Linked DNA regions of Homo sapiens: all the other regions are linked to region 1. Evidence: fine-mapped expression QTL. A gene starts in region 1. Each other region holds a variant in brackets. All regions are shown on one strand. Distances are from middle to middle.

The links. PIP is the estimated chance that this variant, and not a neighbour inherited with it, causes the effect.
Region 2: its variant is the best candidate, but not a certain one, in a credible set for the expression of CAV2 in putamen (GTEx, PIP 0.56).
Region 3: its variant is the best candidate, but not a certain one, in a credible set for the expression of CAV2 in whole blood (INTERVAL, PIP 0.65).
Region 4: its variant is the best candidate, but not a certain one, in a credible set for the expression of CAV2 in whole blood (INTERVAL, PIP 0.57).

The regions. Positions count from the first base shown.
Region 1 is chr7:116,497,398-116,502,549 of GRCh38, reverse strand. CAV2 (caveolin 2) reads right to left here and starts at 2,812. Exons shown (of 3, transcript NM_001233.5): 1 at 2,619-2,812; 2 at 2,103-2,290. The coding sequence starts at 2,768. It overlaps CAV2-DT (CAV2 divergent transcript), which reads left to right and starts at 3,034. Exons shown (of 3, transcript NR_188012.1): 1 at 3,034-3,196. RefSeq lists silencers at 761-1,055, 2,840-2,929 and enhancers at 3,110-3,249, 3,296-3,797.
Region 2 is chr7:116,785,524-116,790,675 of GRCh38, reverse strand. All of the region lies in intron 19 of MET (MET proto-oncogene, receptor tyrosine kinase), which reads right to left. Among named protein-coding and RNA genes, the nearest start is that of CAPZA2, 74 kb to the left of the region's middle. The variant T/G (reference allele first, on the strand shown) is at 2,157.
Region 3 is chr7:116,331,281-116,336,432 of GRCh38, reverse strand. All of the region lies in intron 6 of LOC105375463 (a long non-coding RNA gene), which reads right to left. Among named protein-coding and RNA genes, the nearest start is that of TES, 120 kb to the right of the region's middle. The variant C/T (reference allele first, on the strand shown) is at 2,447.
Region 4 is chr7:116,353,379-116,358,530 of GRCh38, reverse strand. No RefSeq gene overlaps it. Among named protein-coding and RNA genes, the nearest start is that of CAV2-DT, 140 kb to the left of the region's middle. RefSeq lists an enhancer at 1,476-4,922. The variant C/T (reference allele first, on the strand shown) is at 3,124.

The DNA.
Region 1 (5,152 bases):
GTCCTTGATCTGGTCTTATCATGTCATGGGAATGCAATCTATTAATGATAAACCTATTTTATCAAGGCATAGCTAACTTTTAAGCATTCTTGTTTGAAATTACTCCTCTACTTGCAATCACAGCTGCCTGGTGACAAATGTTTTACAGTTAAATATTAATGCCCCACATAAATATAGTTAAAAAAACAAGCTGAAGTTAAATAATATTAAATAATACATTTTATGTGGCTAAAAAAAGGTGCATTGATGATTCACCAATTGAAGCACTATACAAAAACACCTCCCATTCTCAGAAGAGCCAGCTGGAGAGAGGCATTGCTTGGTTAATTGTAGTTTTACTTATATCTTTCCACCACTTAGTAAATGAGAAACTTTTTTTTTTCAAATTCTTTCACAAAAGCTTTGGGAAGCCTAGCTTTGTTGACTATAAATATGGTACTTCACATTTCCAAATAGCTTCATAGTCAGCATTTCACAATATGCTATGCGGTCACTCAGTTTTTCACAGTTTTGAAAGTGAGAAAACTGACATAGAGGTTAGATGATTAGTTTTAGTTAATTGGGAATCCCAAATCTTATGTGCCAACTCAGGGATCTTAAAAAAAATTCAAGTGCAAATGTCAGAATATAACTATCCATTTGACCTTCATGAAGCTGATCATGTACTAAGGCAACATTTTCATTTCCCTGGCAATCTTGGCACCTTCAACATAGTTTAATTGTTTACAACCTTTAGTGATAAAATTAAATTGGTGTTCTTTGTGTATCCTTTACGTATTTGGTGAATTTTCATTTATCCTTTCAAAGTCTTTTTCGACTCCTTTCACTCTTCAAAGCCTTGTCTGTTCCTCCCTCTTTGTCAGTTGACTGTGTTTTCTCAGCGTCCATCTCTGTACCTAGCCAGCTGCCCTGATAAGGCTGTGAGTAAGCTGAAGGCAGACCCTATCTCTCATTCATCCTGGCCCAGTGCCCAGCACAAACTAAGCACTCAATCAATTTAAAGTTTGTTGAACTAACTAGCTAGCTAACTGACTAAATAAATTAAGATTCAGGTGGTATAGAGAAATAAAGGATAAATTGGTAACTTCTAACAATGAACACCGAGTATTTATCAGGGTGTGGCAATATCATAAAAGGTGTAAGAAAGACACGGAGGTACCTTGGGTTATACCTTTCACCAGGACTAACCTGAAGCACTAGCGTGACAACTGTTGTGATACTGGGGATGATCTGAATATTCTTCCTCTCAGATTAAAGTGGATATTTTCTAACACAACAACATTTATTGGTAAAATATGACATTTTCCATAAAAAATTTAAAAGATGCTTAAGAAAGTTCTCTACAGTTTAGGACACATTTTGAGTATGAATAGAGTTACTCAAAATATCCTATCAATATACAGTGGGCTTCCATATTTCTTTCCCCTTTAATTATATGCCACTTCCATTTGTGTTTCATCAGTGAAAAAGTAATTTGGAGGCCTTCTCATTCATTATCCCGCAGCTGGAGTTTTCATTCGTTTGTACTGGGGGGGACCCTCGCCTTAACTGCACACACCTCCCTTTCCTCTGGGTCCCATCCTTGCCATCTGCCAGGGGCAAAGTTGAAGCAGCCCCTCCACACTACTGCTTAACCAGGTCTGACATCCTCATCCAATTCTACTGTCAGCGGCATTCTGCTCAGAGATCACTTTTGTTTTACCCCAAGCACAGGCAGTGACTGAATAAAAGGCAATGAAAGAAAGAAGAGTCCTGCCCAGAACCGCAGGTACGAGTCACAACAGGGCCCCGAGAGCAGCCTGTGGTAAGAAGTGTGGCTTCCAGGTACCCGCCTCCACACTCAGCCCAGCCTTATGTATGCAAGGAAAATCACACCCCAGGAAAGACCGACATTCTTTCTCCTGTTGAAACTCCAAGCCCAAACTGTTATTCTAAAGGAAGCGCATTGCCTTTCAAGGCCTTCCAGTTCTTCCTACTGCTTGGGAACTGATGCGCGTTCCTCCTCCTGACGCCGGCCTGGGATAAGAGGAGAGTAGGGGGCAGGTGGCGGAGAATATGCCCATGTTTCAGAAAGCCGGTCCACCCGGTGTGCCCCGTCTCACCAGATGTGCAGACAGCTGAGGGTGGCAAAGAGAATTCCCGCAATGAAGGCCAGGGGAATGGCCAGGAACACCGTCAGGAACTTGTACATTACGTATTTGCTGATTTCAAAGAGGGCATGGCTGCAGATCCACACTTTGTCAAAGGAGTGCGTAGTCACCGGCTCTGCGATCACATCCTCGAAGCCCAGCTGAGGAGACAGGACGCAGGGACCCCGAACTGTCAGCCAACCTGACGCCCCGGGAACCGGGAGCGCTTTGGGCGGGGGAAGCAGGAGGGAAGGACGTGCCAGGGCGTCCGCCTCTTCTCTTAGGGTCACGGTGGGCGCACAGGAACCTGGCTAAGAATTCCTGGCTACGCGGGCGGCCTGGTGACGGGTGGGACCGGGGAAGGGTGCGGGTCTCAGACCCTGCGGGGCCGACCCGGTAGCAATGGTGGGACGGGTTAGGGCGGGGCTGAGGGGCGCCCGCACCTCCCGGCCTCAGCGGGGACTTGGGCCCGCCCGCCCCGGGCTTCACCTTGAGATGCGAGTTGAGCCGGTGGGGATCCCGGTCCTGGTCCGAGTCCGCGAACTTCTCGGGGTCGGCGTACTCGAGGCCGCTGTGGTGGCTGTAGGAGTCGTCGTCCATGAAGAGCTGTACGTCCGCCTTCTCCGTCTCCAGCCCCATCGCAGCCTTGGTGCGCGGCCGCTGCAGCCCGGCTGGCGCGGTGCGGCTCCCGGTCCGCGCGGCCTCCCCTTCCCGTAGCGCCCGGCCCCGCCCCCCCTCGCCTCGCCTAGCCCTGCGAGGCCCGGGCGGCGGCCGCTTCCCGCTGTGGGCTCCAGCTCCCAGCCCGGCCGTCCCGAGCCCCGCCCCGGCGCCCCGCCGCCCCTCCCCGCCCACCTCCCCCGCCGGGGCGCAGGGAACCGTCCCCACGAGTCACAGCCCGGGCCCTGCAGTGGGCGGCGACGCCGGCAGCTGGGACGAGGAGGGCCTCCTGGTCACCCTTCTGGGGGCCCGTACTGTCATGCCTCAGAGCTGGCAAGTCGTCCCAGGGAAGACAACGGCCTTCCTGGAGGGAGGGAACCTTGTGGTTAGGCGCATGGGGTGCGAAGCAGGTATGTGCTCACCTCCGGCTGTGTTTGCCTTGCGTGCTGCGGCTCATGGTGCTGGTATTGAGCCTCTGGGAACCTCAGCTGCCTCGTTGGCAAAATGGGGGCTGTGGCATCTGTTTCAGGGGTGTCCGTGAGAATTAAATGTTAATTTCACATAAAATTCTAACACACATGGCCCATGGCCCGTAACACACAGTGATAAACTTCCAATCAACGTTGTTGCTGCTGTCGTGAGAGGTAAGGAGCCACAATGTACCTGAGTGCTAGGTACCTGAGTGCTAGGTGACCTGCAAGTGCATGTGGAGTTGGGTAGGCGAACGCCCTGGCCCTAGAGTTTGTGCCTTCAGATCTGAGGTGTGAGGGGAGATCTGATTTTTTTTTTTTTTTTTTTTTTACTTCCTAAACTACACCGTGTGTGTGTGTGTGTGTGTGTTTGTGTGTGTGTGGCAGAGTTTCGCTCTTGTTGCCCAGGCTGGAGTGCAATGGCACGATCTCGGCTCATCGCAACCTCTGCCTCCCGGGTTCAAGCGATTCTCCTGCCTCAGCCTCCCGAGTAGCTGGGATTACAGGCATGCACCACCACGCCTGGCTAATTTTGTATTTTTAGCAGAGACGGGGTTTCCCCATGTTGGTCAGGCTGGTTTCGAACTCCCAACCTCAGGTGATCCGCCCGCCTCGGCCTCCCAAAGTGCTGGGATTGCAGGCGTGAGCCACCGCGCCCGACCTCCACCTTTTAATTTTCTTGTGAACCAGACTGTCTTGAAAGATTCAGGAACTTCTAAGATGCAGTCACATCTGTGATTATCTTGCAGGCAGCACGGAAACAGAACCCTAACACAAAGCCACATTGCAATGGATGAATTAGCCTGCTGACCACTCACGCAAAGGTTTTCAGAAGGGAGGAGTTTGCATGTTCATAAAGGGCTTTAGGGTCTGGTAGACATATACGTGTGTTTGGGGAGGAAGGGCACTTAGTGAAAATTTGCCAAAAGCAAAACAATGAGAACTAGGCTTGAGGTGCAGGTTGCTCAGAGCTCAAAGTAGGCATGTAGTAGGTATTGCTGGATACAGTGTATTTGGAGCTTGTTGAACATATCAAATCCCCTTATGTGAACTGGATTTGAAGAATTGCTTCTTCCGAAAGAAAAAAGATCATTTTTGAAACAGTAAAAATTACAGAAATAAAAAAGAACAGGAACTGAATGAGAAAAATGTTTGGGGGTGGGAGGCAAAGTTCAATATTTCTAATAATTAAAAAGTTTCCCTGCTGCTACCTCAGTATATGAAGGGCAGTGTTGTAACCCTATAGGGTGTTACAGAGTTGACTCTCATGGCTATGGAGCCCCTCCTCTCCCAGACATCACCCTGCTTACCCATTCCCTTCTTTTTTACGTATCTTTCTCATTTTTATTTATGTTCAGTCAATTCCAAAGTGATGACTTAGACATTCTACTCATTGCATTTTCTCTGCTTCTCCACCTTGTCCATTCTCCTGATGAGAATTGGAACTCTTCTAGAATTGTTGCCCAACAACTGTTCATTAAAGTGAATAGAAGACATGAATCCTTATGGGAATCCATAATATCAACTGTGAGGAACAGAAAAAAAAAGGAGATAATTTACAGCCAAATACCATTTTATAATTATAATTCAAAATTATAATCCCAGATTTCAAGGTCTCACCCAAAGAAGAAAGTCACTGCCCTAGTACAAGAGTGGGCTTATGTAGTGGGTAAAAATCTGACATTAGCACTTCTTACCTTATAATTCTTGGTCCTCATTACATTTACATTTTCCATGGGATTATTAGGACATTTGAGAGTTATCACAAATAATTGATTTGTTTTCAGGAAGTGGCCAAGAGGACTCTTTAGACAACAGCTTCATTCGTAAAATGATAGGTATTTAAGAAAGGTGTCTCTAAATCCCATCTAAATGAGACCCATCTAGATTTGTTGT
Region 2 (5,152 bases), 290 kb before region 1:
CAAAAATTTGAAAATAAAATTACCATATGATCCAGCAATCCTGTCTCTGTGTGTATATACAAAAGAATTGAAAAAAAGGATCTCAAAGAGAATTTTTACATCCATGGCCACTGCGGCACTATTCATAATAGCCAAGAGGTATAAGAAACCTAAATGTCCATTGACAGATGAATGGATAAAGAAAATGTGGCATATATGTACAATGGAATATTATTCTGCCTTTAAAAAGAAGGAAATCTTGTCATATACTAGAACATGGATGAAGCTTGAGAATATTTTGCTAAATGAAATAAGTCGGTCCTAAAAAGACAAATACTGCATGATTCCACTTATATGAGGTATCTGAAGTAGTCAAACTCTTAGACAAAGTAGAATTGTGGTTGCCAGGGCCTGGGGGAGAGAGAGAATTGTTTAATGGATATAGAGTTTCAGTTTTGCTAAGATGAAAAAGTTCTAGGAATCTATTGCACAACAATGTTCACATAGTTAACAATACTGTACTGTGTATTTAAAAATGGTTGTATGCAGCCATAAAAAGGAACAAGATCATGTCTTTTGCAGGGACATGGATGAAGCTGGAAGCTGTTATCCTTAGCAAACTAACGCAGGAACAGAAAACCAAATACCGCAAGTTCTCACTAAGTGGGAGCTGAACAATGAGAGCACATGAACACAGGGAAGGGAACAACACACACTGGGGCCTATCGAGGGAGGGGAGGAGCATCAGGAAAAGCAGCTAATGCATGCCGAGCTTAATACCCAGGTGATGGGTTGATAGGTGCAGCAAACCACCATGGCACACGTTTACCTACGTAACAAATCTGCACATCTTGCACATGTACCCTGGAACTTAAAATAAAATAAAAATCGTTCAGATGGTAAATTTTATGTATTTTTTTGCCACAATAAGAAAGGAATGAATTACTGATACGTTACTACTACTGATACGACAACATGGATGGCTCTCAAATGTAATATGCGAAGTAAAAGGAGACAGACTCATAAGACTACTGACTGCATGATTCCATTTATATGACATTTTAGAAAAAGTAAAACTCTAGAGACAGAAAATAAATCTGGTTTTCTGATTTCCAGGTCCTGGGGATAGGGTAGAGGTTGACTACAAAGGAGCATAAGGAAATTTTCTGAGATGATAGAACTGTTCTATGTCCTGATTGTTGGGGTGGTGGTTACACAACTGCATGCATTTGTCAAAACCTGAAAAACCGAACACTGAAAAGAATGAGGAGTGGGTAAATTACACAATGGTGATGCCATTAATCAAAGCCAGGAGGTGAGAAATTGAGGGTTTGGCAGGAAAGAGTTTGATTCTGAACATGGTAAATTTGTGACACTGATGATGACATCCAGGTAGAGAGAATCAAAGGTGGTTATTGATGGGAATGGTTCCAACTGTTGGTGGAGGATGACCCCTAAAGACAAAAATCCTGGGAGACAGCTACATCTGAGAGAAGGAAGACAGAAGGAAGAGAAGCCATTGAGGATAAAGAAAACAACCTAGAAGCAGGAGGAAAACTGGAAGTTTCAGTGTCCCAGAAACCAAAGGAAGAGGAAATTTCAAGAAAAATGAGGGTTACAATAATGTTAAACACTTCAGAAAGATGAGGCAGATAAGGGCTGAGAACAAGGAAGTCAATACACAGTTTAATGGAAGAACTTGTATTAAGTGTGAAACAACGTATAATACAATTACAACACCCATTGCAAAAGGGTTCAGAGGAGGGTGTGAGTGATTTCCAGTGTAGTGACACTCCGATTTTGTTTGAATGGACTTAAAGAGTATTCAGATTTTAGCCAAACTCCATTTGGGCATTTTCTAGAAAGAAAACCCAATCTACAAGCAGGCAAGTTTTTGGTCGCAGGTTTCAACATACACATAGCTCATTGCATGCTTTTGGAAATGTTCCATGTCAACATTCAAGATTGCGCTGTCCTGGAAGTAAAACACTGTGCAAATTTATCCATGCAATCAGTAACCATTTCCCAAAGCAGCATTATGTACAGATTATTCAGGTTCAGCCTTTATGTAGCACAAAATAGTGTCTTTCGATGAGAGTGAGAAAGAAATAGCACCATCCTATCTGCAGAAATCTATGTACATTTCCAGTCAAGTATCTGAGTGACTGTGGCTATGG[T/G]GGAAGCCTTGGCCTCTGTGCTGTCTGTGTGTGTTTGTTGGGGAGGTGGGGGTATTGTTGCATGTATGTGGCTGTCAAGAAGCTTAGAATCCCAACACTTGCCCTAAACATCCAAAATTTCATCAGGCTCTTTTTTTATAAATCAGCTTTGTTGAGGTATAATTTATAGATCATAAAACTCACCAATTTTAAGTGATTGGTGATGTTTAGTAAATTAAAGTGATTAAATGATGTTTAGTAAATTTATATAGACGTGCAGCTATCATATCATCACAGTCCAGTTTTAGATCATCTCAACATTCCAGAAAATTCCCTCATGTCCATTTGTGGTTTATCTTCACTCCTTCTCTTGGCCCCAGGCAACCACTGATTTGTTTTCTGACTCTGTAGTTCTGCCTCTTTCTAGAAATTTCATATAAATGGAACCATTCAACATGTAATTTTTTTATCTGCCTTTTTTTCACTTAACATAATGTTTCTGAGGTTTATCATGCTGTAGTAGGCATCAGTAATTCCTTTATGTTGATGAATGGTTTAGTCCATTGTATGGACACACCACATTTTTTTTTTATCCATTCACCCGTTGATGGACATTAAGATTGCTTCTGGTTTTTGGCTATTATGAAGAAAACTACTGTGATCATTCATGTACAAATCTTCATGTGGGCATATGTTTCATTTCATGTGCTCATTAGCTAGCTATTCTTACGTCTCTTTGGTAAAATGTCTATTCAAATCTTCTGCTTACTTAAAAAAATTGAGTAATATTGCCTTTGCTATGGTTTGAATGTGTCCCCCAAAGTTCATGTGTTGGACACTTAATCCCCTCCCAATGCAACAGTGTTCAGAGGAGGGATCTTTAAGAGGTAATTAGGTCATGAGGCTCTACTCTCATGGGTGAATTAATGTCATTATCTTGGGAGTCAGTTCATTATTGTGGAAGGGGGTTTGTTAGAGAATCTGTTCACCTCTTGCTCTCTCTTGCACTCTCTCACACCCATGTGATGCCTTCCACCATGTTATGACACAGCAAGAAGACCTTCAGCACATGTGGCCCCTTGATCTTGGACTTCCTGGCCTCCAGAACTGTGGGCCAAATACATTTCTGTTCATTATAAATCCCCCAATTTGTGGTATTGTGTTATAGCAGCACAAAACGACTAAGACAGTCTTATTATTGAGTTGTAAGGGTTGGCTCTGGCTTCTTAATGGCAGACTAACCCTCAAGTCTGAATGAACAGTATGTTCTTGGAGGATGGGTTAATTCTCCCTATCTTTTGCCTTCACCTGCCACTGTCACTAACATGTCCCCAGTCTCCCTCTCTAGCACCCACTTCTTTCACCTCTTTCAGAATCTTTCAGGATCAAAATCCCAGGCATTAAGCTCTACATGGCACTATCACTTTCTCTTACCAATCTCATGCATGCTGAAGTCCTGGTCCTCCACCATGACCTATGACCTACTTACTCATTGAAAACAAACTCCCAGTCACCTCGTCTTATTCTCTAATAGTTCCCCTACCTCCTCACAGGAACTGAAACTCAGCTTTCAGTTGAAGTCACAATTTCTTTGCAACTCTTGCCAATAGGGGTCACACCTCTCCCTCTTGCTGATTCACAGAGAGGTGGATGAGATGACTTCTTGCTTCCCATGCCACACTCAGATCTCTGACCCATCATCTCTCAAAAGCTACCAACCCTTTCTCTTCAAGTGCATGTCCCCCATGAACATTATTTTCTGACTACTTTGTTTGCACATTTTCCTTTTTTAGTTGTCATCCTTAAGGACTGAAACATCAAATGTTTCTCTATCTTCAGACATCACAGTCCTCTGACTTACAACATGTGAATAGAATAAGTGTACTCTCCATTCCATTCAACACCTGTGCTCCTAAGCACACTCTAGACCTCCAAATCACTCAAGTTACTCAGCTTCCAAGACCCTTCTGGTGTACTGAGTAGCAGTGGACTCTGTTGAGCATCCAATTTCTCCTTGAAACTTTCTCTTACTCTGACTTTCATGGTGGTCTTTGCTTCTGGGTCCCTTACCTCACTGCTTTTCTCTTTCACTTTATATATGTAGTTGAATAATTGCTTTTGGACTACTGAATAATTGCTTTTGGACTCTCAAAAGCATATTCCCAGCCTTGACCCCTGCTATGGACTGAATTGTGTTCCCCGGAAATTCATATGTTGAAGCTCTAAGCCCCACTGTGACAATGTTTAATGATGGGGCCATTTAGAGGTAATTCAGTTTAGACAAGGTCATGAGGGTGGGCATTCATGCTGGGATTAGTGCCCTTCTAAGAAGAGATACTGGAGAACTGACTCTTATTCTTTTAGCCATGTGAGGACACAGCAAGAAGGTGGCCATCTATAGGCCAGGAAGAGAGCCCTCAATAGAGCCCAACCATGCTGACATCCTGATCTTGGACTTCTAGCCTTCAGAATGGTTAGAAATACATTTTTGTTGTTTAAGCCAACCAGTCTGTGGTCTATTGTATGACAGCCCAGGCTGAATAATACATTTTTTACAAGTTGCAGATTCACATTTTCAATTGCCTGATGGACTTCTCTGCCTGGACATTCTACTCCCAAGGCAAACTCAGTGTGTTTAAGGCTCAACTTGCTATTTTTGTTCTGAGTCCAGCTTTTGCTTCTGTGCTTCATATATGTGTTATTGCATGAGCATATATCTTTGCTAATCTTTGACTTTTTATCAATTCCTTGGTAAATACTTCTGATTCTACCTCTGAGATGCTCCTCCTTTCATCTCTTCCTTTCCATTCTCATTGTGTCTTATTTCAAGTTCCACTTCTCACTTCATCTTCCTGCTTCTACTCCTTTCAAGTTGTCTTGGAGAATGATTGATATGGTTTGGATTTGTGTCCCCATTCAAATCTCATGTTGAATTATAATCCCCAGTGTGGGAGCTGAGGCCTGGTGGGAGGTGACTGCATCATGGAGGTAGATTTCTCCCTTTGGTGCTGTTCTCG
Region 3 (5,152 bases), 170 kb after region 1:
TTTGAGACCAGCCTGGCCAACATGATGAAACACCATCTCTACCAAAAATACAAAAATTGGCTGGGCGTGGTGGTGGGTGCCTGTAATCCCAGCTACTCAGGAGGCTGAGGCAGGAGAATCGCTTAAACTCGGGAGATGGAGGTTGCAGTGAGCTGAGATTGCGCCACTGCACTCCAGCCTGGGTGATGAGTAAAACTCTGTCTCAGAAAAAAAAAAAAAAAAAAAAAAAAAAAAAAAAAAAAGGGTATTTGTTATAGTCTGTATGTGTAACATATTTTATAATTTCCTTTATTTTATTTAGCAGACAATTTCAATTCCAGGTGAAGTCAGGGTAAACAACTTTTCCAAGTTAAGATAGTTCATCTCTTATGAGTAAATAACTTTCAGCAATTTAGAGCCCTATTTTGGCTGTGCCTCCTGCTACCATAGGCTGGTCCCTCCCTGATCCTTCTTTCCAATGTGCAGGAGGAGGTTGCATCCATCCTCATGTGGCAGGAGTTGAGGGCACTTTCCACATTCTTGATGTTCTTTGCTTCGGAGGGGTTGGTTTGGTCCCCAGAGGCCCTATACTGGTGTCCTCTGAGATGTGGCTGGTTATACCTAACCTTGTTGAATATTTCGCTGGCATTAACTTCTAATGTATCACTTCTTGCCAGTTGCCTCAAGGAGTAAAGTCCCTAGGCTGTGTAGCTTCCTTTTCCCAATCAGAGTCCCCTCTAGGTTTTTGTGGCCTCTCCACATTTCCCCACTGAGCCACACAGACATTTCTGGGTCTCTGGTATGCCTTGCATCGTCTATGGGAGGACTGGGGCACCCTCTTGGGTACATCATCAAATGCTTCCTTTGTAATTCCTACTGTACAGCTCTTTGGCCTGTTGACAGAGAAGCAGAGCATCAACCTCTCATTTAATCCATTTTAGCTTTCTGTGGGCATTTTTAATTATTTGTTTTGTCTCTTTGGCCACGGCACAGGGATGGCAGTGTGGCTGCTCTAGATCAGCGAAGGGAACCAGGCATCTCATCAGTTTAACTGCTTCCTCTCTGAGCCCTGTGCCTCCCTTCCATGACAGAATAATTTCTTCTTCTTCCTTCTTACTATTGGGCATATCCCTTGTGTCAAATCATTTGTTGTCTCTACGCAGTATTTTCTAGTAAAACTCTAGGACAAAAGTCCATCAGGCCTAGATCTGTATATAAAAATTGGAGTTTAAGGGATTCAGAAAAAACTTAACCTCTTTAAACAAAGCCTCATTTTTAAGAATCTTACTGGAGATTAAAACAAGTCTAATTTTGGAAATCAAAAGCTGAACATGGACATCTTTTTATCTTACATTGCTGTTTTAATGCTTAGCCTCCTTACAATAATGGCCAAGCCTCCACTAGCTGAAGTAAGAGGGCATCATATACAAGGAAAGGTGAGAAAGAAAAGTACACATCAATATATTTAAAAATATATTTAAAATAAAAGTATATTTAAAAACACAGAAATGGACTCCAGCTAACTTAATCATATGTGACATATTAGAAGGCTATTCATGTTGGAAAATCAATGGAACGCTGAGGGATAAGTGTGGGATGCACAGGAGCCTAGGGTGATCCCGAGTATCCAGATGTGGAAAGCGCAGCAGTGTGGATAGGATAGCATGCTGCTATTTATGACTCAAAGGCCAGTCAGAGAGCATCAGTGGCTGAGCTTAGGTGTGGACCTATCCTCTGCCTTCAGCAGGGATGAGGAGTCATGGCCTCTGTCAGCTTCAGCTTCCATAATGACTGGAGGCATCTGGATTCCCCCATCACCAACACAAAAATTGGTGGTGGGTTCTGGAGGCTGATTAACCTCCAAAAAAGAAATTGGAGTGCTATTGGAAAGTCATTCTTGGAAAGTCCTAAATGACGAATATATGCAACATCTAAATGAAAACAAAAAAATGTGGGAAGGAAGGGCTCAGAAATAAAAGGTGGGATGTCCGAAAATGAGCTCCTTCTTTGCACTTCTGTCAAGGATAGGCACAACCCTGTGGTTTGGGGCATGACCTTGGCCTTAGCACCCATACCATAATGCTTCTTTTCCCTAATTTTCTGGCTCCTTTGCTTTGTTTTTCTTTGGAGGCTGTTTTCTCCCCTTCTCTGTGTAAATGGCCACTACAGCACCTGAGTTCACCGCTCTGCCATTCGATTAAAGTGCTGAATTAACCAGAGCCTCTTTATTCCAATTCTGAACTTCCAAGGGAGCATATCTGATTAGGCCGGTTTAGTATATCCACACCTAATGAGCTATGAACACAGGGGAATGGATAGGTGCAAAGGGTTATATGGTATCAACACTATTTGTGAGATGTGAGGCTGGCAGTGGTTCTCAGAAAGGAGAGAATGGGGCATGGAGTGGGAAAACAGGCTAAAAGTTATGATGGCAGGCTATGATTATACCATAACATGTTTTACAAAT[C/T]CCCTAATATTGAATATTCTTTCATTCTAATTTTTTCCTATTATAAGAAAATTGCGATTTTAAAAATCCTTTGAAGGTAAATCACATTCTTCCCTTTAGGATTAATTCCTGGAAGTGGAATTGCTGGTGCAAAGAATCATTACATTTTAGAACTTTTGATGTATATTTGTTGTCTTCCAGAAGCCAATGTATGCCATCTCCAGTACTTAAAAGTACTCATTTTCCTACTTTATCTGGGTATATTAATTTGCTTATTAGACATATTAAAAATAGTTCATTGCTTTAATTTACTTGTATTTAATTTCAAATAAGATCAAGCCTTCTTCGTAAACATATTAGCCACTGCATTTCTTCATGTCTTTCATGTATTTTATTGTGTTAATCTTATTGATTTTAAAAGTTCTCTAGTTATAAAAGGTAATCTTTTGTTGTATAGTATGTCTCAAATATCTCTCCAAGCTACAGTTTGCCTTTTGAGAGTTTATATCTAGATTTTTAAAACATAGCTATGAAGTAGCTTTTTAAAAAACCTATGATTATATCATGTAACTAAGTCAAAATTTGGTCAGAGGGATATTCTTCTTTACAGAGTTATTGGATTTATTTGTTCTTGTGGAATATACTGATCTTTTGTTCAATCTTCTGCCTTTAGAAAATGGAGTGGCTGTTGACTAAAACCACCAGAAGTGAAATACAGAGTAAGGCTCACTTTATGCATGATGATGTTATTGGTTTGTTGATAGACTTGGTCACATAAATCCAAGATATAGTTGATCTAGGCCTTTTATTTTGCCATTTAGGGATAAGATAAGAAGAAAACAAACCTGGTAATGCAGCACCAATTGTTAGAATATTGTCTGTAGGGCTCTGCTTTTACATCTCTTTTCAATTTTTCAAATAGATATTCGTAGGTCAAGATTTTCTTGAGAGCTGACTAGAATTAACTTCTGTGTATTAGATTGAAATTGGCTCAGAAGTTAATGTGTAGCAGGAGGTATTATTTCTTCTTCCAAGAGATATTTGGCTGAGAGGCTGCCAATTTCTGTGCTATGAAGTTTTTTGGAGAAGAAAATTAAATTATTTTATCTTTGGCTTTAAGGAATAAATATCCATCTCCAAACTTTCTAGCCCTATCTGAGAGTTGCCGTTGTACGTATCTTTCTAAGCTTTATTTTTATCACCACCTGACAAATATTATTTCATTTTTGTTTTCATATATAAGGTTTACTTCTCTTTATTTTATAAATGTAATCAGCACAAACTGGATAAAGAAATATTATAAGGAAATAGCCATTTAACCCTAATTGCTATCAGAAGTTCACAAAGGAAAAAAACATTCTAGATGTACATTGTCCAGTTTATAACCGTGGATGACTTGTTCACCAAAGGCTCTTCTAACACCTCAAACACAACACATCCAAACTTAGAGCCGACATACACTAAGGTGACCCCCAATGCATCCTCGTTCTTGTTTAATTCTCTCTTCTTGAATGTAGGCAGAGCCCGTGACTTGCTTCTGACCAATACAATATGCAAAGGCAGGATTTCACTCTTTTGATGAGTGTATATTGTATGCCAAAGATGGTGGATTGTCACTGCCTTAAGTATACAAGACTCTCTTAGCACACTGCAACTAGAGATTCTCCCATTGGCCTTGAAAAAGCAAATGGCCATGTTATGAACTGCCTATAGGGAGGCCCAGGCAGCAAGGACCTCCCTTTAGGGCTTAAAGTTTGCCTTAGCCGCAACCAATAAAAGGCTAAGACCCTCAGTCATACAACCACAAATACACAAATTCTCAAAAAACCTGAAAAACTTGGAAAAGTGGATCTTCCCCAGTCAAGCCTCCATATGAGAATGCAGCTTCCAGATGAGAATGTAGAATGCAACCTTGATTACAGCTTGTGAGCTTCTGAGCAGAGAGCTTAGCTAAGCCATACCCAGACTGCTGACCCACAGAAACTGTGACAGAGTAAAGGCATATTGTTTTATATTGCTAGGTTTGTGGTAATTTGCTATACAGCACATAAAACAAATATGCAGCCTAAACTCAATTGTGTTTCCCAAGCTTCTTGTATTTTCTTTGTATCAGCGCAACTATCTTTCTAGTGAAATTCATCTTTGATTCCCAAAGTCAAGCAGCTACCAAATCCTGCTGATTTTATATCTAAACCATCTCTTGTGTGATTCCACTTATCATCAGTTCTTACCAAGACAGCTGCAAATCTTTTCCTTCCTTGGGCCCTCATGGTGCCTTTATTCTGTGCAATGTTGGCAAATTACTCTCTCCAAAGCTGTGCTTCCCAAAACACCTTCTGTAGATACTAGTCCCATGAAATATTCACTATACTGTAAGCTCCATACGGGGAAGAAAGGCAGCTGTTTTGTCCACCATTGTATGCCTGATGTGAAGTAAATATGTACTTTAGAAAATAATGAGTACACAGATCAGAATGTTTCTGGAAGAAAATTGTTTGTATTATAAAAATAGAAGCCTGATAATTTTTGCTTCAGGTTTTAAGAGGGAATTTAACAAATTATTTTTCTATCACAAGAATTTTCACAGCAATCAGAATCTCAGAACAGATGTGAACTATTAGTAGGATGATCATACATCTCACTTCTGGCTCCCCTTTCACTCAAAATCATGCAGGTTGAGAAGATAAACTTAAGGTGATGGGTGGTGGATGAGGTGCTGATGCAGAA
Region 4 (5,152 bases), 140 kb after region 1:
ATTGTTTAACTAAAATAATTTTTTGTTGTTAAAGAGGAATATTCAGGAAAGGTCAGGTCTGGTGGCTCAAGCTCTTCCTCACATGATAGAGAACTACTTTGAGGAGGCTGTGGGAATCACATGTCTGTTGCTAACTTGAGTTCAGCCTTCTCTGTACTTACTTATTCTCTTGACCTTGGGCTGTGCTGTCAATTTTTTCTTTTCTGAGGGTTTTTTGAAATGAACATAAAAGGAAATCCTTTCAAGACTGTTCAGATCCTTGCTATGCAAAAATTGCATTTGAAAGAGGTCTTAGATATGATCTAATGCAATTCCCAAACTTTATGTGGAATTCTGATTTCTGAGATGGCCAAGACACTTTATTTTTATTTTCAAGACAGGGTCTCGCTCTGTTGCCCAGGCTGGAATGTATGGAGTGATCACAGCTCACTGAAGCCTGGACCTCCCACTTCAGTTTCCCGAGAAGCTGGGACTACAGGCATGCCTGGCTAATTTTTTGTGTTTTTTGTAGAAATAGTGTTTTGTCATGTTGCCCAGTCTGGTCTCAAACTCCTGGGCACAAGCAATCTGCCTGCCTCAGCCTCCCAAAGTTCTGGGATTATAAGCATGAACCATTGTGCCTGGCCAACCAGGACAGTTTAATGGGAATTTCATATTTCTCATCCGTGAGTCATATCCTTTTACCCAGAAACTGGGAAAACATCCCCACTGAAAACCCAAATAGATGGTACTACTTTCTCAATTTTTACATCAACAAAACAAGGTAATTTCATTCAAAGGAATTATAGTTAATATTATGTATTTTTCAGCAAATTAATTCTGTGATGCCATTTGATGACCTACAAAAAATGTGTCCCAGTGTTACTTCACTGTTCTATATTAGGGCCCTTTTATACACAAACTCTGTGGTATTCCTTTCCACTAACTGCCCAGCACTGGCCTGGTTAGTTCATCTCCATTTGGCAAATCACTATTTGGGGGTAGTTGGTCATGTTAGTGTGTTTAAGCCATGTCACATTATTCTGTCAGTCAGGTCCTATGTGTCCCAAGAGCCCTTCAAGAAACTCACTGGTCTCTTTAGATCCTAGCAAGGAAAGACTAGAAATGTCTCCTTCCAATTTGGTGATTGTACTTCTTATAGAATGGACTGGTTTGGCAATAAGGTACCAAATACTGCTACTCAGAGCTTATCTGATTTGCATGCAGCTAAACTGCCTCTGTGTATTCAGCTGCATGTCCCTATAGAAAAATCACCTTACTATTTTTAGAACTCCACTGTCCATTGTCCTATTCTGGAATAGACAGTAGCTCTGACTATAAGTTAAAATGGGCTACATTAAACCCTGCCAGGCCTTGCATTTCTCTCATTTGGTCCTTCACTGACAAATTCACATAGTGCAAAGGTCATGGGCAAGCTATAACTCTTCTCTGGAGCTCCAAGCTGGCTGCCCCTGGGGATTTATGTTCCACTCTCCTAACTGGGCTTACCAAGCCATAAATTCCTGATTAAAGCACAGACCGCTTGAGAGACAGGGAGGTTGGAAGAGTATCGATGCTCAGGTCTCCAGTCACCCACATATTTGTATGAGAGCCTTGGACTCCTGGACCCAAAGCCAGTGTAATTACTTTATAACTTAAAAATCATGGTTTTCAATTTTAAAAATTCATGTAAAAATGGAAGTCACTGTGCTGGAAATGAGTCTTTCCTTTCTGAGTTCTGTAATGCTATGTTATCTTTATATGTTTACAATAGAAGGAAATGGTCCTACTGGCTGCCAGTGAGTGAGGTAGCAGAGTAGAGCTGCATTCTAAAATCAGAACTAATATTCAGCACCAGCTTCTATGGTCTTGTGTTTTGATGTGCTGGCTATTGGGCCTACAGAAATGCACCTTCTGTTTATGCTTCCAAGTGTTCCTTTTATCTCTAGATAAAAGTGTACAGGGGAAGTTGCCAAAATTAGTCTACCTTTTGGACCCAGGCCATAGTTAAACTTAGATATAAAACAGATCAAAGAGTTCCATTCTGATCCAAATAGCTGCAGCCCAGCAGCATGGCTGGTGGCAGTATGAAGTGGCTGAACACCTTCTGATTTGGAACATCTGAGCAATACTTTCTGGGCTGCAAGGCACAAAAAGAGGCAGCATGCATGTCTGCTTTTGAAATGACTGTCCGCCTTCCAGGATTTGACAGAGGAGCACTTGTTTAGACTTTGGTGTCTAATCCAGTGGGAAGCTCCCAGGTATTCCTAAAGGCTGCCGCAGGGGGTCTCTATGAAGGGGGGTACTCTCCTCTCCTCAATACACACAGGGTTAATTTTGTTCACAGTCCTTCCATGCTTCCTTTAGGTGAAGCCAAACTGTCGAGGTTTCTTCTTTACCAGGTGGCAGCAATTCCCCACCCGACTCTTTTTCATTTTGCATTTACGTTCTGATTTTTAGAGTCTTAGACTGATGTCCCCGGGGAGAGTAGGAGCAGACAGAAGATTCTTGGGCTCTGTGAATCAATAGGGTCACCAAATTATTTACTATCCAAACCAGAACACTTCTGTCAGTGAAAGAGGCACTGTTGGTAATTAAATCTGGACAACTAGAGTCAACTGAGACTCTCCTGGCAAACTGCGGTGTATGGCCACCCTCTGCATAGAGAATCGGGTGATTTCTGGCTCTAGAGATGCAAGTCAAGTGCTTCTTTTCCTGTGCGTGATTGGGCATTTTTAGTCGCTCCTCTAAATTATTATAGATGATCATTTTCTGCTCTTGATAGCAAATATAACAATAAGAAAAAATTGGATAATAAATTTTCATATGACTCAAAACACAGCCCCGTTGTTAAATAATATTGCTTCAGAATAGATTTTCTTGCAAAGAAAATGTTCTGTACAAATTCTTTAAAGAAGTCTTTCAAGTGGATTTTTTTTAAATGATGCCACCGCCCACTACTTACAAAGAAAGTCTTGAAGGGGAGCAGCAACCCCTCAGGCCATTTCTATCAAAGAGATGTACAATCAGTACCAGCAACACAAAAATGCTCCTGTAATTGCACCCAAACTATTTTTTGTACCTAACAAATTTTTGTCTTCAAACTGCAGTTGTATGGCTGTGTTTCCGTTCTGTTTGTTTTAC[C/T]ACTTCCCTTTGAAATATTTTGCATCATCCTGGAGATTTTCCCAAGTTGTGGTCTGCTCGCTGGAGGGCTGCGCTCCTCTGATTTGCAGCATGAAGTTGTGTTGCCATGGCAGGGGTTGTTTACCATAGGGGAACACTTAACAGGATGGGCACCTCCCACAGCCATTCCAAACTCCTTTCCTCCTCTTCTCTACTCGCTTAGATATTCTGAGACAGCAGCCCAGATATGGCTTTCTCTAATCGTAAACTACATTCCCGGAGCGTGAACTTGACTTTGCTATGCTTTCGAGATAGGGAAATGTTTGGCTCTGTTTATTCCTCTCAAACTGGGCAGTGTCCTCTTGACTGTTATGACTAATCCACTTGTCATGGCTGGAATCTCCTAACAATTCTTTCCCTCAGGTAAATCACATCGCTCAGACTTGTGAAGCAAAAATGCCACTGAGACCAAAGGGTGACCTTGTGGTGGTCGCAGCCTGTTCACCTGACAGAGGTCTCTGTTGCCCAGGAGGACTTTTTATTTTTCCAATAAAAGGAAAGCTTAGTCAGAACCTGACAAGTCTTGCTCCCTCACATTCCTGCAGAGGAACCAGCCTGGGGAGAGATAAGAGCCGTGGGTTGACACCCTGATTATGCTTACCTTCTTATTTGTTAAATGTGGAAATTGACTTCATCCAATTAATAAGAGCAGGAAACAGTTTTTGTTTTGTCTTTGTAGGAAAACATGAAGTAACAGTTTTATCTCAATTTGTCAGGCATTGCCCAAGAGACTACAGCCATGTGGGCCAGTGGCCAAAAAATTGCTCTAAGGCCCAAGTATTAACACCCAGATATAAAAAGAATGCTAATTGGTTTTCCAGCTGAAAAATAATAAGGGATTTGCTGCCAAAAATGCTGTATGGCCTGAAAACCCCAAGTTTATACAATAGGGCCTGATTACAATCTGGGGGCTCCATTTGTGCTCCTATGAAGAGCTAAACAAAGGGAGGTGTTTCGCTCCTCTGTCTTTGTAGAAAGCTCCGCTCCAGATCTCAGCCTGGTGGAACACCAGGCTTCCCACAGTCTTCCTGCCAAATCCCCAAGTTTTTTCCTGGCTGCCATTCAGGAAAGTACAGCTTCGTCTGTAGGATGGAAAGTTAAAAAGGCCTTGCTTGGATACGCTGAAATATATACAAACACTGCCTGACGTATGGAGTAGGCTGCTGCCGCTGGCATCTTAGTAGAAAGAATGTGAAATTTTTAAAAGTCATTTTGGGTACGTGATTGAGATGTTAGCTGGAAGAAGAAACTTTTTTTGTTTGTTTGTTTTAGAAAAATGAAAATTCAGCATTCCCCTTAATCTTAACAGTTATCTTACCTTAGTTGTCTCATTGGTAAAATGTCAACTAACCTCCAAGATCCCATTTAGTTTGGGCTGTCTGTAACTTGAGGGCCGGGTATAGCGTATGCAGAAAATACAGGCTGTCTACTGAATATCTTTGAAAAGGTCCCTGGAAGTGAGTTGGGATGAAAGTCAAAGTCTGGAGCACTGGCATGGTACAGTCCTAGGCTGGTGTGCTGATGTGTATTGGCTGGGTGCCAGCCTGCCTGTGACTTCACACTACAATTCCAGGTCTGTATCACTTATGGGAATGGGCCTGAATTAAAATGATTGCATAATACTTACAACTCTGTTCTCTTTATTTCCAGCTGATGGTAAATATTATGGCAAATTTCACAGCATTTAATTAATCTTACCCATAATGTTTTTAAGTTGTAGTTAATACTAAAATACACTACCTTTTCACCAATCATGGTCATAGACTATTATCCTAGTCACGTATGTAATTATGCAACTAAGTTAAAGAGTTTTTTTTAAAAAAAGAATTACTTTGAAAAATGAAGTAAAATGTATTCTCAACAGCCAACTTCTGCCAAAATATGCGAAGAATAAAACAGGCCATAAGAATCCATTGATGTGTACAAAATTATTTTTTTGACAGAAACAGGCAAGCAACTATGTTTGTTGCTATCAATGCTTTTCTCTTGT